Homo sapiens: one gene and its partner. The protein of the gene in region 1 purifies or fractionates together with the protein of each later gene. This does not show direct contact. Each region holds a gene or a part of one and is shown on either strand. Other genes may lie near its edges. The genes, in order: CRB1 and MPP4.

Region 1 (2,681 bases):
TCCTGAGGGAATTCTAGTTTATCTTTTAAAAGCAAATAGAATTAGGGAAAATGATAAATGGTATACTAATGACTACTAATATGTTTGTGTATTTGAGAACTTCCTATAGGCTGTGCTTTTTGTATTTTACATTCTTTGTGTTTTATTTGGTCCCATCCTTTGAAGTAGATGTTAATATTCCATTTTATAAATGATGAAAATGAGTTCCTAAGAGGTGAAATAACTTGCTGTGTTTGCACAAGTAATTGGCAGAGCCACGAATCAAACCCAGGTCTCTGCCTCTGAAGACTGACCTCTTAACCACTTCATTACACAGCCAGGACTGGCAGAGGTGGGGCTGGATCCCAGGCCTTGAATTTGCTCTTTTATTTTTATCACATTTTTAAGAACAGCAAAGCAACTGTAGATGAAGGACTTGGTTCCTCAGGAGTCCCAAAATATGTGAAACAGGTCAGCCCTCTGGTTCAACCTGAATTGAGGTACTAACAAGGACTCGGGACCCACCCCCATGAGTCCTTCTTCCTCTCCTGTTGCAGCATAGCAGATGAGAGGATCTGGGAAGCCTCAGTTTACCCAATGTAATCAATCTCAGGCTGAATGAGAAGAGAAGGGCCTGGAAAAGTTTAGAAAACAGAGACAAACCAAGTGATTTTTCTCTTGTGTGCATGGGTGTGGGCACTCCCAACTCTCTCATCCAGGAGAACCGCCATTTACTCCAACAGATGACATGATTTACCAGACAGATTAAGATGAAATCAACATCTAAGAACAAGAGTGTGCATTTTCTAAAGATCATTGGATAGTACTAAGGTGTTTTTCTGGTCAGATTTCATCTGCTCTTCTGTGTCCCAGCCTTTTGACCTTTCAAGCCCAACTCTGCGGTTCTGTTCCTCTTTCCCAGGCCAGAGTTATCTTTATTGATAAAACATATAATTATTTACAAAAGCATGGCCACACAGTATGGATGGAGAGTTTGCCCTCTAGTTGACATAAACTATTTTTTCTAAAAAACTACTGAACTCTATGAAATTCTATATGCTTTACTTCAAAAGCTCCAGTCATTGTCATAACCCAGAATTTTTCACAGTAATATGAAGGAGAGATGGAGTAGTAAACATATTTCTAATGATCTAATAGTACTATATTCTTGAATGTCTCCAAGGCACCTAAGACCAGCTTTTCCCAGCCTGACCTCATATTCTTCCTACACAAACCTCATGTGAACCCAGTTTTTCCTCATGTGAGCCCAATTTCAATGACTGACATCCCAATCCACCTGCTCATCTAATGTGGTATCAACAGCCATCTTCATCCTTCCTCTCTTCCCCACTACCCCACACAATCTGACATGGGGTGATGCTGAATTTACCTCAGAAATCCCTGTCAAACATTCTTTCCCTTCAATTCTCACTCCTTTGCTAAATTTAGACCTAGGTAATCTCTTATCATGACTAATAAGATAAACTAACTTCTCTGCCTCCAATTTCTTCCCCACCTACACTATCTCCCATCCTCCACCCTGTTACCAGAGCTTATCAAGTCATGCTTTTGCTTAAATATCTTCAGTGGCTCCTCACTGACTACAGGACAAAGTCTGAGTTTAGTGTGGCATTCACATTTCTTAACAAGACCCTTCTACTTTATAGTATTTTCTCTCACCAACTCTTTTCACCCTTTCCCAATTCAAACATACACATTCATGGTCAATGTATTGGTCAATATAGTATTTTCTCTCACCAACTCTTTTCACCCTTTCCCAATTCAAACATACACATTCGGTCACACTGGGTTTCTTACTCTTTCCCTAAATTCTAAGGACTTTTATGTCTTCTTGCGTTTTATGTTTTGTTTTTGTTTTTGTTTTGAGACAGAGTTTTGCTCTATCACCCAGGGTGGAGTGCAGTAGCCTGATCTCAGCTTACATCAACCTCCGCATCTCGGGTTCAAGCGATTCTTCTGCCTCAGCCTCCCAAGTCGTTGGGATTACAGGCACCCACCACCATGCCCTGCTAATTTTTGTATATTTAGTAGAGATAGGGTTTCACCATGTTGGCCAGGCTGGTCTCGAACTCCTGACCTCAGGTGATCTGCCCACCTCAGCTTCCGAAAGTGCTGGGATTACAGATATGAGCCACCGAGATTGTCTCATTAAAGTGGAATTTCCTCCTTGAAGTACTTGAGCATCCACTAATCCTTCAAAGGACAATCATGTCTCATTCCAATCTTGCTCCACCTACTCCTCAACACAATTAATTCATCACATGGTCATAACACCTATCTGTAATGTATTATGATTATTTGTGTGTGTGTGTGTGTGTGTGTGTGTGTGTGTGTGCGCGTCTTCCTCTTCTCCTATCTCCAGAATTTGAGCTCCAGATTCCAAACTTTTATTTGTCTTTGTATTTTCATTTCCTAGCTCAGTAAATGCTCATAGTAAATGGTCAATAAGTATTGCTGATTGAATGCACAAACTAATGAACCACATTTGAGCAAGGATTATTGTGAGTAGATCCCAGACAATACTATGAAGCTGTTAAAATATTATATTAATTGTATAATAATTTAAACCAAGACACAGGGGACAATAAAAAGAGACTAAGGATAGAAAAGATATTTAAACTCTCTAGGATGTTAAACACAGATTTCATTTGTAATAGATTGGTTTGGTAACGTGGGGATGA
Region 2 (3,829 bases), on another chromosome or scaffold:
GACCACAGGGAGAGTTGGGCTGCAGTTAAAGCAAGAAGAAAGGGCTCAAAGAAGAGGCTGAGGTCTAAGAGAGTTTGCTGAAGATTTGCTGTGGGTTCCAGAGGGCGTGGGTGGGTGGAAGGGGTCTTATAGGGATTAAAGCACAGGGGATAAGGGGTGACCTGAGCTTGGGGGCTGAAGGACATGAACAGGGATAAAGGCCTAATGAGATTAGTCCTCATGGTTTCAGGTCAGAAAGTGGTGAGGAGGGTCTGGCAGGGGCCTTGCAAGGAGCACACAAAACCCAATTATGGGTTTCTTGGGGGGGCACACAAACAAAGAATGATAGGAAGTTCTCATGCTGCTTTTAGTCATTGCCACGTGAAAACCTAATATGAAAATAAGAAATTAAGCAATTTCATTTAGAAGCAATATGTCAATAGCAGAGTCTACACAAATGTCTTGTTGGGGACAGAATAATGGAAGGCACCTCGGACTCTCCTGAATCTCATTCAGAAAACCAGGAGGCACATTGGAGGACTGGAGGAGGGTGTTGAGACTAAATCCGCTGCCATATCTGGGCAAGAGGCCTGCCCCGAGCGCGGGCTGATGTGGCTTTTGAGAAGTCAGTATCTCTGAGCCTCAATAAATGAGGTCTTTGATATCTACAAACAATTTTTCTCTCTTCCTACCTCTCCAACTTTGCTATGAGTAAAAATGAGCTGGGTATTTTGTAAAATACGGATTCCCCGGCTCTGCCCTCCCCTCTCTGAGGATCTGATTCAATAGATATGGACTGAGCCAGGAATCTGCATCTTCACCAAGCGCCTCAGGTGCTCAGGGTAAGTGGTATGAAGAGCAGCATTGTGCTTAGGAATAGTGAATGAGCGCATAAAATATTTTTTAAACTCTTTATAAGAGTGACAGATTTGAATGCAAGTAGCTGGGGGGGTTTTGTTTTGGTTTTGCTTGTTTGTTTTTACTTTCAACAGGTAGAAAATTATATCTGATTTTAGAAAACTGTGAAAGAGTGAGGAGGAAGGCTTCTCCAAAAAGGGCATATTGGTGGAAAATAATACCCATCTAAAGGAGTTTGGAATGACTCTATTGCAAATTGGGGGAGTTAGATGTTGATGGTTTGTGCCAGAGTAGCAAATATTTTTGGCAAGTAGACGTGACTTTCCAGTGAGAGGCCCCATTCGCTGGAGTTTCCCCCAGAGGGAACATGTGAAGATGTACAGGATAGCATTTTGTAAGAATGAAAAACCAGGAGCTCCCAGAGGAGAAAGGCCAGGGTGAAGCCTAGAGAGGAAGCTGATAGAGAATGAGAGACACAGAGACAGAGATAGAGAGAGATCAGACTACCAGGTAATTAACCATGGAGTAACCAAGGAAAGGTACAGAAGGTTAAAAAACAGGAAACACAGATATTTACAGAGCTCATCACCTAACTAGGAATCAAGAATCTTGGCTCTGGCCTGCATGTGCTGTGAATTAAAGTACCTTAATTATGCAGAGAATATTTCTGGAAGAATGCACAAGAAACTGAGCAGAAGGAAGGGAAGAAGCCTTACTTTTTAAATGTTTTTATTTTTTGAGATGGAGTCTTGCTCTGTCACCAGGCTGGAGTGCAGTGGCATGATCTCAGCTCACTGCAGCCCTGGCCTCTTGGGTTCAAGCCATTTCCCTGCCTCAGCCTCCAGAGTAGCTGGGACTCCAGGTGCGCACCACCACGTCCAACTAATTTTTGTATTTTTAGTAGAGATGGGGTTTCACTGTGTTGGCCAAGCTGGTCTCGAACTCCTGACCTCAGGTGATCTGCCTGCCTCGGCCTCCCAAAGTGCTGGGATTACAGGCGTGAGCCACCACACCCAGCCTACTTTTTTATACTGTTAAGATTTTTACTCTGTGTATATGTTATCTCTTCAAATAATTAATGAATCTGAATGCCCTGCATGTCCATGCTAATTGAGTTTACAGTAAGGTCTCATGTATTATTTAGTCCTCACGATGCCAAATGCGCTGAGCCCCATTTCAAAAGTGGGGAACTAAGTTTCAGACATTAGGAGATTTGTCCAAGATCCTAAGGAGGGGAAGCATGCCTGGAACCCAGGTCTGTTGAATCCCAGTCCATCACTTTGTAGATTATAGCATAGATGCCTCCTGCTGCTAACTGTTCAACCTCCACCACATTGCTTGACTTCCCTGGATCAGTTTCCTCATTTCTAAAGTGAGGAAGGTGGACTAAATTGGCCCTTCTTCAACTCTCTTGTGAATTAGAATCACATGGAGAGTTTGATTTAAACATGTAGATGCCCTGGCCTTATCTCCAGGGAATTGGAGGCAGGAGCTCTGGGAGGCCCAGATTATTTGCATTTTAACAAACACCTCAGATGTATTCCAAAGTTTGAGAGATTAAATTAGAGCTTGTTGCCTTTAACATACATATGACTTACCTGGGCTCTTATTAAAATGGAGATTCTAATTTGGAAGGCTTGGGGTGGAGACTGAGATTCTGCAGTCCTCACAAGCTCCCAGGTAAAGGTGATGCTGCAGTTCTGGGAATACAAAGAACAGAGTGTCTTCGAAATCTTCTCTTGCTCCAAACTTCACAGTGTTGAATAAAGAAGGAAGAGCAACTTTGCTTAGAAAGTTGCTTTGAAGTAGGCAAGGCAAGGAAAACCTGCCCAAAGAAATTGCTGGGGGACTCAAGGGAAGAGGAACAAGTCAACAGAGGTTTCAGGTGCCAAGAAAAGGTGAAGCCTTGCCCTGGAGCCCAGGGGTGATGCTAGAGATCAAGAAAGGAGCAGAGTCATCTATAGAAACTGTAGAGAGCCTCTAATAGCCTGAGAGGGAAACCTGAACATGTCATGAGAATTCGAAGGAGACTGCAAAGACAGGCTAACATGCCTGAGAGGCAGCTTACCACGGGTCATTTACTGAAACTCCATGTGCAAACTTGTGATCATGTGCGAGATTGTCACTGTAAGTCTTTGTTGTTCTGAAAAGATCCCGTGAGGCAGAAGAAGACATGAGAGAGCCTATATGTTTGGAAAATTTATTTGACAATGTATTTGGAGAAGCAATCACCCTTTTCACTTGAGTGAAGGCAGCAGAATTCTAAGAAACATTCTGTTTGTCGTTGCTCTGGGTCTGTTTCATCTAGGTTAACAAAGAGTGGTTTTTGTTTGTTTTTTGTCGCATGGTTTTTTCCCCCCCATAGGAAGCAACGGGAATTCTGGTGGTCTCAGCCGTACCAGCCTCACACCTGCCTCAAGTCAACCCTATGTGAGTATTGCAACTGCCCGACAGGTTCTTCCTGTTTGCAATAAAGACCATGGCATTGCAGTAAATAAAGAGTCTAATTGATGTGAGGCTGGCCATGCCACATGGGAGATGGAGTTGTTATTTAAATCAATCTCCTTGAAGGGCCCTAGATTAGGGGTTTTTCAAAGGTAGTTTGGGGAGGGCGTGGGGGTGGTGGCTATTCAGTGGGCACTTGCTACTGATTGGTTGGATCAGAGACGAAATCATAGGGAGTTGAAGCTGTCCTCTTGTACTGAGTTGCTTCTGGGTGGAGCCACAGGAGCCATTGGTTGGTGGGTCCAGATGGAGCCACAGGTGTCAGACATGCAAAAAACCTAAAAAGATGTCACAAAAGGCCAATCTTAGGTTCTACAATAGTAATGTTATTTGCAGGAATTATTGGGGAAATTGCATATCTTATGACAGTCTACACCTTAGCAGAATTCAGGCTCCTCTCCTTCCACTAACTTGATGGTCTCTCATTAGCTTTATAAAGGCGGCTGAGTTTTAGGGGAAGGACTGTTATCATTTAAACTATAAATAA

Evidence for each region.
Region 2: the proteins of CRB1 (region 1) and MPP4 purify together in Homo sapiens (co-immunoprecipitation; one study listed by IntAct). This does not show direct contact.

What each region holds. Positions count from the first base shown.
Region 1 is NC_000001.11:197,474,064-197,476,744, forward strand, and holds part of CRB1 (protein crumbs homolog 1 isoform 1 precursor), read left to right. Parts: intron 1-2,681. UniProt on the Homo sapiens protein: Plays a role in photoreceptor morphogenesis in the retina. May maintain cell polarization and adhesion.
Region 2 is NC_000002.12:201,674,645-201,678,473, reverse strand, and holds part of MPP4 (MAGUK p55 subfamily member 4), read left to right. Parts: intron 1-3,202; coding exon 3,203-3,267; intron 3,268-3,829.